2 separate regions of the Homo sapiens genome follow, and region 1 is linked to region 2. The links come from fine-mapping of genetic effects on gene expression. A gene starts in region 2. The other region holds a variant in brackets. All regions are shown on one strand. Distances are between the middles of the regions. Region 1 has its middle 10 kb from the start of LINC02048. Region 2 holds the start of LINC00887 (long intergenic non-protein coding RNA 887).

What was found. PIP is the estimated chance that this variant, and not a neighbour inherited with it, causes the effect.
Region 1: its variant is the best candidate, but not a certain one, in a credible set for the expression of LINC00887 in adrenal gland (GTEx, PIP 0.52).

Annotation. Positions count from the first base shown.
Region 1 is chr3:194,284,299-194,289,675 of GRCh38, forward strand. No RefSeq gene overlaps it. Among named protein-coding and RNA genes, the nearest start is that of LINC02048, 10 kb to the left of the region's middle. The variant T/C (reference allele first, on the strand shown) is at 2,894.
Region 2 is chr3:194,309,893-194,315,269 of GRCh38, forward strand. It overlaps LINC00887 (long intergenic non-protein coding RNA 887), which reads right to left and starts at 2,912. Exons shown (of 3, transcript NR_024480.1): 1 at 2,709-2,912.

The sequences.
Region 1 (5,377 bases), 26 kb before region 2:
GTTTGATCCAGTGACTCTCAAGGTTCCAGGTCTGTGGTTATGACGCCCCGATCCCTGGTACATTAGGCATGGTGAAGAGAAAAGGACCAGAGGTGTCTGCTGCACTTCGTCTAGGTGGGCTGTGTTCTCCTCTCAGTAGAGGGGGCCTGGAGATGAGGGATGGAGATTGAGGAGGTGTGCTTCTCAGATGGATGCACACATCTGGAGGGCTGCCATTCTCCCCAATGATCCCCAAGCCTTAGAGTGACTGCCGAAAGGGTTCTATAAGCACATGGCTGGGGCCTCTGACTTGAGTGCCTCCTGCTGCAGCAAGGAACAAGGTTCCACCCGCTCAGTGGATCTGGGGTCTGGCGGCTGGACATGGAACCCTTCCCAGGGACAAGCCAACCAGAGATGTTCCCAGGCTCCGTCTTTATTCCAAAGGAATAGGGAGGACCAATGCCAGGGCATTAGGGGATGAACCAGGAAGGGTGTAAGCCCAATCCTCTCCTACTGACCAAGGAAAGAAGGGAACAGAAAATCACTTAACATCAGGTTCTCCTAAGAGGTCTTGCAGTGCGAGGTAAATCACCTAAGCTTGGTGTTGGGTACATCTGGGTTTCAGTACGGGCTCTGTCACTACTACCTATGTCCCAGCCACTCTAGGCTTGTTTCCTTACCTACAAAATGTGCATAATGAGAGATTTCATATCATAGAGCTGGGAAAATTAGAGAATCCATTTAAGACCCTTAGAGTAGTGACTAGCACATAATTAGCACTCAATATTATTATTGTTAAGTTTGCAAAAGATATCAGAGCTCATTCAGCTCCACTGCACACCTTGCATAGGAATTCCCTCCAACTGATGATGATAGAGGATGCTTGGGCCACTGCTTTGAGGACCTGGGATCTCACTACCTGCCCTGGCAGCCTAGGACCACAGGGCCAGCCCACAGATGGGCAGCTCACACTGGACCCAGAGCCATAATCAGCCTTTCTACGGCTGCCTCCTCCACTTCTCTTCCTTTTGTAACCCAATAGCAAACAATAGTTTTGAATTTAAAGTAGCCCTGTAACACAGGAAAGGAAAAATAAAAGTGCACCCTCCTATTTTAGCTTAGGTGAAATCTGCTTGGCAATCCCCCAAACGTTTGACTCAGCCTCACTTGCATCTTGTTTCATTTTAAAGCCAAGTTATAACTGACACATGCGATCGAAAGCCCGGTATGTTACAGGGATGGGGAAGGAGGATGCCTGCCCATAAGACTAAGTACGACCATTCAGACTGGGAGTAAGCAGATGCGTGTGCTGTCGAGTATATTGGCCGGAGAGGTGTATCTATAACTGGAAGGACACGTGTGTGTGTGTGTGTGTGTATACAGGAGGGTGAGTGGTGTGGACTGTTATGTGCGTGTGTGGATAAGTAGGGGGAGTGTATGCCTGGGCGTAGATGTGTGATGCGCGTGTGTGGATAAGTTGGGGGAGTGTGTGATGCGCGTGTGTGGATAAGTTGGGGGAGTGTATGCCTGGGTGTAGGTGTGTGGGTGTATGTTGGGTGTGTGTAAGTATGTGGGTATGGGTGAGGGCTATCCTGGTGCTCCCTGGCCAGGGCACAGTGATCCCCAACTGCAGAACAGCCACTAATTTGGGAGTGCATTTCTTTTTATACCAACTTCCCCACTCTTTTCAGGAAGCTGCATTTGTTGGCCAGGATTTGAGATTTCTTTCACTGAGGCCTCCGGAGAGACATTCCAACGGTGAACACAGAGCACAAACTCAAGAAATAAAACCACATGTACTGCCTCAAAGGCAACAAGGCAGGAGGGTGTAAAAAACCCCAGGGGGAGATACAAAGGCTCAAAGTTCTGCAACCCACACCCCTTGGAAAGAGAGTAGGGTCAGCTCCTCTCCCACCCCAAACTCCCAGTTTGAATTTTTTAAAAAAACAGCCTTATAAGCAAACATCTGCCACTCTCCGGCTTCTGAATGAAAGGTGAAGATCAGAAAAAGGAATCTTTGTGTTTTCATTAGGTATTTTAGCAAATGCAATGAGGACATTCAGATTTGATTTCCCTGTTTTGTACACACACATAAGTCGGTGCTAAGAGGATTACTTTTCCTGGAGCTGCGTCCTTCCTAAAGGCCCCCGTCAAAAGAGACCCTTGTTCAACAGTGTTTTCTCTGATTCCTCTGGCTTTTCTTCCTTGCCTCAATGTGCACACATCTAGCTTGCTCCTAAATCCACCCACCTCACAGACTTTGGGATAACGATGGTCCCGGCACTCCATTCTCCTCCTGCCCGGGTTCCTTAATAAAGCTGGAGATGAACATTAGTGCTTGGTTCAGCAGCATCCGAAAGGGAAACGGTGGCCTCCTCGAGCCCTCGATGCCCCATAGAAAAATGTAGCCTTTTTGCCTCTGCTCCGATGAATGGCTTTTCGAGGGTTTTCATTAGGACCGGGTCTGCTGGTGCAGAAAGCCTCACAGATGTTGACATTTTTTCATCCCTGGGTTAAGATGTCTTCCATAAGCTTTTATTCCTCATTTGTTACTTCTTTATTATCCGGGAGGTTTTGCCTCCTCCCTCTTCTCCTTTCTCTGAAGAGAGCAGCGGTAGCTGAGCCCGTCATTATCTCGGCCCTTTTCTCCTGCCTCCAGAGGCAGCCCGGGACTCGGGTCCCATTGTGGCAAACAGCAGGTAGCTGAGGCAGGCCGGGTCACTCCCCAGACCCTTTTGTGCGGCCGTCCCCTCCTCCCTGCAGCTTGGTTCTGGGGATGTAAAAGGTCAGGAGCAGCCAAGCTTCCATACCTGAGCTTTTGTCTGGGGCTGGAGGCAAATGATTTTAGAAGCAATTTCTTGGAAAGCAGCCTGGAGACTCCCGTCTCCCTCGTTAAAATGCACAGCTGTACTCC[T/C]AGCCCACTCCTTGGGGCTGGGGGTGAGGGGACAGGGGGATTAGCTCAGATCATCTGGATCCAAAAATGCCCTGAGAAAAAAACTTTCTACCCAGAGGATGGTTGAGACAATTCAAATAGAAGCCTAGAGCCCTGAGATGCTAAGCAGTGTTTTGTGATAAACAGAGTGTGGTGTTCTGTCACTTTTGACTCTTCTTTGTTTTTAGTCGTAGCAGCCTGCAGCCTCCCTGCAACCTCTCTTTCCTTACCTGTCAAATAGAAATGATCCACCCTCCCTACCTGCCTCACACAGTTTACTAGTTATTCTGTGGATCCAAGGAGGTGATATAGAAACTGTTTTGCAAGCCATAAGATTCCATACGGCATTCACCATTTTTGCCCTCTGCTGGCTGTATGGACCCTGACTTGAATATAAGCCATCCCATAATGCAGTTAATTTTTCTGAAAATTATAGAGCAGAGATACAGGCAGATTTAAGGGCCTTAGGGCATGTGGTTCCAAGCCCTGCCCAAGCTTATGCTTTGCAGGTGAGGAAGGTCTCGGGGCAAGACAGGCTTTCATGGTGGTAAATTCCTTGAGGTTTGATGTAGCTCCCCTTAGAAGGCAGCTATGGGAAGCCACCTGCAGAAAGCTGGTGTGCAGATTTATGTAGGGAAAGATAAAAAGGGCCCAGGGGTGCTCACCAGCCACCAGCTTAATATAAGCCTTTGCAACCTGGCTGCCGGAAGAGCCAATGGGAGCTTAAGCTGCCTACCGGAAAGAAGGGGGTCCCCCAGGCTCCACCCAGGGTGCTGAGACCTTTCTGGACATCACATCTGGAGAGAACTGTGCAGGTACAGAATTCTGCTCAAGGGAAAGAGACTAGGATCATGAGAGGACTAGAAATCTCACTCTTACAAACACTGGCTGGGGAAGCTGAGGCTGCTTCCCCTATTTGAGAGTTCAGGGATATTCGTAGGGAAGGGGAATCGGGCTCATTCTGTGTAGCCCTAGGGACAGACACTGGGACTGCAGAGTGGAAGCTGAAATGAAAGTGTTTTGAGCACATGAGAGGAAAATATTTCAAATGCCCAGAATTTAAGAGAGAGTGAACAATCTATCACTAAGGGTAATCTAGCAAAGTGGGATACTGGGGAGAAGATTCATCATCCCTGAGCATTCATTTAGGGCTTACTCTGTGTCAGGCCCAACATGTCCTTTCTAATCATGAAATCACTCCATTCTTTGATTTATTAAGAAATATAACATTCCTTTTAAACAACCAGGTCTCACAACTCACTATCACGATGGCAACACCAACGGGGATGGTGCCAAACCATTAATGAGAAGCCAGCCCCATGATCCAAACACCTCCTACCAGGCCCCACCTGCAGCACTGGGGATTACATTTCAACATGAGACTTGGGCAGGGAAATAGATCCAAACCGTATCAACAAACATAGGCAAATCACATCTATTTTAATATACTAGCAATGAATACATGGACAACAAATATAAAATATAATGTATAATCAAGAAAATGAAATATTCAGGTGTTAATATAACATATAATCAAGAAAATGAAATATTTAGGTGTAAATATAACTAAAGATGTCCAGCACTTATGTGTTGAAAACATCAAAATGCTAATGAAAGAAATCAAAGAAAAATCTAAGTAAATGGTTGACATATGATAGTCATGGATAGGAAGAGTCAAAATAGTAATGATGTCAAATTTCCCCAAACTGATATACAGGTGCAACACAATTCCAATCAAAATCTCAGCAAGATTTCTGTAGATGTAGACAACAAGCTTATTCTAAATGTATATGAAAAAGCAAAGGGAGTTGAATAAGTAAAACAGTTTGGGGAAAATAATTTGGGAAAAGTCATATTACCTGATTTTAAGACTGATTAGATAGCATCAGTAACCAAGTCAGCATGAGGAATAGATACAAAGATCAATGAAACAGAATAGAGAACCCAGAAATGGGTCCTAGATATTCTAGGTATGAGCCCCACACAAGTAGGGCCAACTCATTTTTGACAAAGGTGCAAAAGCAATTCAATGGAGAAGGGATAGCCTTTTTAAGAAACAGTACTGGAGCAAATAGATATTCTTGGGCAAATAAGAAGAAAGAAAAAGAAAGGAACCTCAACCCCAAAATCATACCTGTTACAAAAATTAATTAAAAATGGACCATAGATTTAAATGTAAAACATAAAACTATAAAACTTTCAGAAGATAACATAAGGACAAATCTTCAGGACCTGTGGTTTAGTGAAGAGTTCATAGACCAAAAGCAAAAAAAAAAAAAAGACAGAAAAAAACTTTTAAGTGATAAATTGGACTTTATCAACACTACAAACTTTTGCTCTATAAAAGCCCCTCTTAAGAGGAAGAAAAGACAAGTTATACACTGGGAGAAAATATTTGCAAACAGCATATCTGAAAAAGGACTCATATCATATCTAGAATATATAAAGAATTCTTAAAACTGAAGA
Region 2 (5,377 bases):
GCCCCTAGAGAAGATCTTACTAAGAGCTGTAGAAAAAGGTTGCGTTGTGCTTAACTGCAATCCTTTCACATGTGAGAGCAAGCTAACATACATCCGTTAGACACCTACTGTTTTCAGAATCCTGCCAGAGGAGCAGTAGGTCTTTTTCCTCAGTGGTTTTCTCCCACCCACAGTCACCAGTGTAGATAGAAGCCCTTGGAACCACGTTCCGCAGCAGCACAACAGGTGGGGCTTGGGAAGACAGTGCATCTCCTGCTAGCCAGGCTGCCCAGACCCTGGGGTGAGTGTCCAAGTAGGTCTTGGACTACCCTCTTCCCCCAGCTTTTAGAAAATTCTCACCCAATTGGACTGCTGTGAGGGGGACCTGATCTGAACCCTCAAACTCCTGCTCTGCAAAGCCTAGATCAGACAGAGGCCCAGCCTCAAAAGCACCTCACTGTTCAGGCCACACAGGCAAGCTCCCGGAAGCTGGGCATGGAGCACTGCCACACGGTATGGTCCTAATTCTCCTGTCTCATCCTCCGCAGCCTTTGCTCCTGGAGCGGCTGTGTTGGGTGTTCTGGCACCAGTGGCCACACGAGCCATGCTGGCCCCTTTCCCTGACATTTTTTAAATATAAATTTTTAAATGTGTCTTTGAGATGAAAGCAGGAATGCCAAAAGTAGGCCGACGCTTTCTTGTGTTCAATTACAGCCCTGGGGAGTACCCCACACAAGGAACTGCTCAGAGCTCCAGCCAAGATGAAATCTGCTTTTCCAATAAGCACTTCAAATGGCAGGGGATGTTGTTGGCTGGCTTCAGCAACTGGGAGGCCAACAGTTAATAGGGCTGGGCACAGAGGCAGGGCTGCCCGCCATCAGGGGAAATCTGAAGCTGCCTTTCACAGCAGCTTTCACCGCAACTGAAGTTACAAGACACTTTTCTGGCTCCCCCAAGCCAGTGGCATGAACCCACCTTTGGACTTCATTGAAAAGAACTTCCAAGATTTAATCTTCCAAGATTAAAGATTTTGATATCCAATGTATGGAGAATTAATTACTCTCTATACAGTTTTTCTTCATTATTTTCTCAGGCCAAATTCCTTTACAGTAAGTGTTAGGCATGTCCAAATTATTTTATTGGACTGGAATTTTGTTGGTTTGAATATAGGCCATGCCAGAAATGCTGATAAAATGAAATGAGGATACTGATGGTGGTGGTGAGGATGGATGGATGGATGCGTGGATCGATGGATAGATGGATGGATGGATGCATGCATGGATGGATGGATGGATGGATGCATGGATGGATGGATGCATGGATGGATGGATGGATGCATGCATGGAAGAATGGATGGATAGATGGATGGATGGATGGATGGATAGATGGATGCATGGATGGATGCATGGATGGATGGATGGATGCATGGATAGATGGATGGATACATAGATTGGCTGGTAGTAGAAGTAGTGGCAGTGTTATAAGCTAAGTAGGGAAAGGTCTAACAGCTCCATTTCCCAAACCTGGAAGCTGAAATTCCACAAAGCAAATGACTGGCCCAAGCTTACCACAGGTGAGCCTGACGTAGAACCCAAGCCTTCTAAGTTATGCACTCCTCAAGACACCAACTTGTACTTCAGTAATCTGTGTCACGCTGTGACTGCATATCCATGTCCTGCCCTGGCACAGAGCTTTCCAGACTCAGTCACAGTCATAGGTGCATTTTGCCTGGTTTAGTTACTAAGTATTGGCCAATTATCAAGTCATGAAGGGAATCGTCACCAGGACTCGGGATTCCAGCTTCATTCTTGAATCCCTAAAGCCATTCCTGGATTTGAACACATATTTCCTGACCCGTTAGGTAGAAGAAGAAGCACCAGGGTAAACAGCAGCGATTTCCAAATTGCGGTGTGGATAAAGGATTTGTTAAAATACGTATTCCTGGGCCTCATTTCCCTGCCAGGTTCTGAATGAGGAGGTCTGAAGCAGGTGCAGGAAATACAGGTTCAATAGCAAAACACTTAACCTCTTTGAAGTCTCAGTCCAAATGTCACCTGTGTAAGGTTTATCCTGACCACTCTATCTAAAATTGCAACACACATACAACCTCGTCACTCCCCAGCACCTCACCCTGCTCTCCTTTTCCCCCTAGTGCTCTCACCTGTTAGATATTGACTTGTTTCTTTTTAATTTTTTTTTTTTTGAGACAGGGTCTCTCTCTGTCGCCCAGGCTGGAGTGCAGTGGCACAATTACGGCTCACTGCAGTGTCAACCTCCTGGGCTAAGACAATCCTCCTACCTCAGGCTCTCAAGCAGTTGGGGCTACAGGTGCACCACCACACTCAGCTAATTTTTGTATATTTTGGTAGAGATGTGGTTTCACCATGTTGCCCAGGCTGGTCTCGAACTCCTGGGCTCAAGTGATCCTTCCACCTCAGACTCCCAAAGTGTTGGGATTACAAGCATGAGCCACAGCACCCGGCTGACTTATTGCTTATACTTGTTTGTTCTTGGCCTCCTTTGGCCAGGACCTGTCTTCCTCATTGCTGAATCCCATGAGCCTGGAGCCATGCCTAGGTCAGTAACTCCCTGTTGAAAACAACAGAGACTGAAGGAAGAAGTAACTATAATTAATGCAGGTGGTTCGAGATGCACACTTGGAGAAACACTGCTCCAAGAGCATGAAGTTGGCACCAGCCTGACGGGGGTTGGGTCCCAGCTCTACCCACCTGCTGTGTGACTTCAGACAATTTCAGCCTCCTGCGCATCAGTTCTCTCTCATCTGTGAAATGGAGACAATCCTTCTATCTTAGGGCTGCAACACAAGGATCCAGTAATATAACCAGGCACAGAGCAGGACGCTGCAGCGATACTCCCTCCCTTATCTTCTGGGTGGAATTTTGCAAGCAACGGTGTCTGAGCAGAAAATGAATCTGAAGCCTCCCAGGGGGGAGGGAGCACATTCTGTTTCTCATCAGGCGGAGAGGCGGGGAGGAAGAGTGAATGGAGGTCACCCATCGAGGGGAGTGTATAAGTCATCCCTGCCGGCTACCTCTGCAGCTCACAGGACACACGTTCACCTCCCTCCCTCCCTCCTTCCCTTCCCACCAGCAGAAATGAACAAGCAGTTTCTCTGAGTAAACAGATGATAAATCACTGGCTAGAATCAGTACTCCCGCCAAAGCAGCATCATTGGAGATCTCAGGCAGAGCAAGCGCACGTGCTTGGGGACTGCAATTTGGGTTTAGAGGCAGCCCTGCCAGGCCTGCACACTGCCGGGTGAGCATTCCTCCCCAAACAGCCCAGCCCGCTTCCCCGGGGCTCTTGGAGTAAGTCCCGCAGACTCTTGCCAGCCCCACCTGGAAGGACTTAAGCTCCAGCGTGGGGGATGCGGGTGAGATGGGAACGAGGATTTCCTGACAGCGATCCTGGAATGGGTGACTGAGCTTATAGACTTTTTCTCTGAGTTTTATGAAGCAGATAGGATTTGGAGGTAAAGAGACAAAATAAAAAATGTCTACACACACACACACACACACACACACACACACACACACACACACACAAAGACAAACACATTATACACCCCAAAGAGAGGAAAAGAGAACAGCCCCTGCAGAGGGGGATCAGGGCATCTGTCCACATGGATGTCAGGACAGTGGCGGGGACACACAATCCAGAGTCCAGAGCCCACGTCCAAGCTCCAGCTCCACCACTCACTGTCCAGTGACCTTGGACCAGTCTCTCTCCCAGCCTCCTCTCGGGGTTTCTTCCTCTTGAAGCACGAGCATGCATCCCTGATGCTCCCTGAGCTGATGTTTCATGGGTCTCTGATTTCCAGTTGGGCCCTGGCCAGGCGCATTGCGGAGGCAGTAGGGAAACTTGCCCAAATGTGTGGCCACCCCAATCTTCTTGGCCAGCCCCCAGCCCCAGCTGAGATCCAATTCAAAGCTTGGACCTTTACTTTCAGAGTCTACGATGGAAGGAGCAGGATTCGTACTGACGTCCCACACCTTTTTCCTGGCTTTCTGTCCCCGGTGGAGGCTCTGTGCCTGGCAGGCTAAACGCCCTCTGAGCTCTTAGAGGCAGTTTCCACCCTCAGCCCCTGCCCCAGCTGTGACAGCCTCAGGGTCAGGCTGAGCCCTGGAACCGTATCTGCTCATCTGGATTCAAGGAGAGACTACTGTTCTTCAAAGTAACCCCACTCCCGGTGGAACCCAGCCGCCACTCCCACAGGGCTGTCCAAAGTATCCCACTAGAGACCCCAGCAGGAGCTTCTGAGGAATTAGCGTGGAAAGGGATCTGCCAGGGTCTGGTTGTGTGACCTTGAGCAAGTCCCTTACCCTCTCTGGGTCTCAATTTCCCCACCTGGCTGGGCTGGCTCTGTGCCATCTGCCCAATGCCCTGTCTGGCCGCTGGCAGCCTCTCCCTCCCTGGGGCTGTAGGGAATGCTCCCCTCACTGGCCAGCCAGGGGTGGGGTTCAAATGGGGGAAGCCAGGAGCAACCCTTGCAGTCAGGGCTCCAGGCAGGAATCAGAAGAGAAGCCTCCGCCTCTTCTCCCCAGCAACATCTCTTCCCATCTTAGAATTATGGGCTGGCAAAGCCAGGGAGGCTATCAGGCATCATCCAAACCATTATGTACATGGCCTTCCTCCAAATGAAATCTCACACAAATATCAGATTGGAGGTTTGGGAATGGGGATAAGGGGATGGGCAGAGATGAAATATGGCGTGGAACATTTATGATAAAGACAGCTCTGGGCCAGGCACGGGGTGGTTCACACCTGTAATCCCAGCATTTTGGGAAGCCAAAGCAGGAGGATTGCTTGAGACCAGCCTGGGCTACACAGTGGGACTCCGTCTCTACAAAAAATAAAAAAAAATTAGCTGGGCGTGGTGGCGCATGCCTGTAATTCCAGCCTCTCAGGAGGCTGAGGTGGGACAATCGCTTGAGCCTGGGAGGTCAAGGATGCAGTGAGCTGCGGTCACGCCACTGCACTTCCAGCCTGGGTGACAGAGCAAGACCCTGTCTCAAAAAAAAAAAAAAAAAAAAAAAGACAGTTCTGGCGTCCTGGTTGGGGAAACTCCTCCAGCCATGGAAGACCCTTCCAGCCAGCTGGGGCAGCTAGACAAGACAGCGTTGCTCTACTCGGCTGAGTTCTCCTCTCCAGAATCAACTCCCATCGCTGCTTAAAGGGAGTAATGTGGCTGTGGGGGACAGAACACTAGAGTTTCATCAGCAACCTCGTCACCCCCAACATACAAAACGCTCCTTACAAACGCAGTCCTATCTGTGCTGCTAAAGAAGGCAATCCCCCCTTCACCATCCCATCTCTTCCACTTCTGTGCATGAGAACGCATAGGCAGGAAGTATCTGATCCACACGGCTCAGATGAG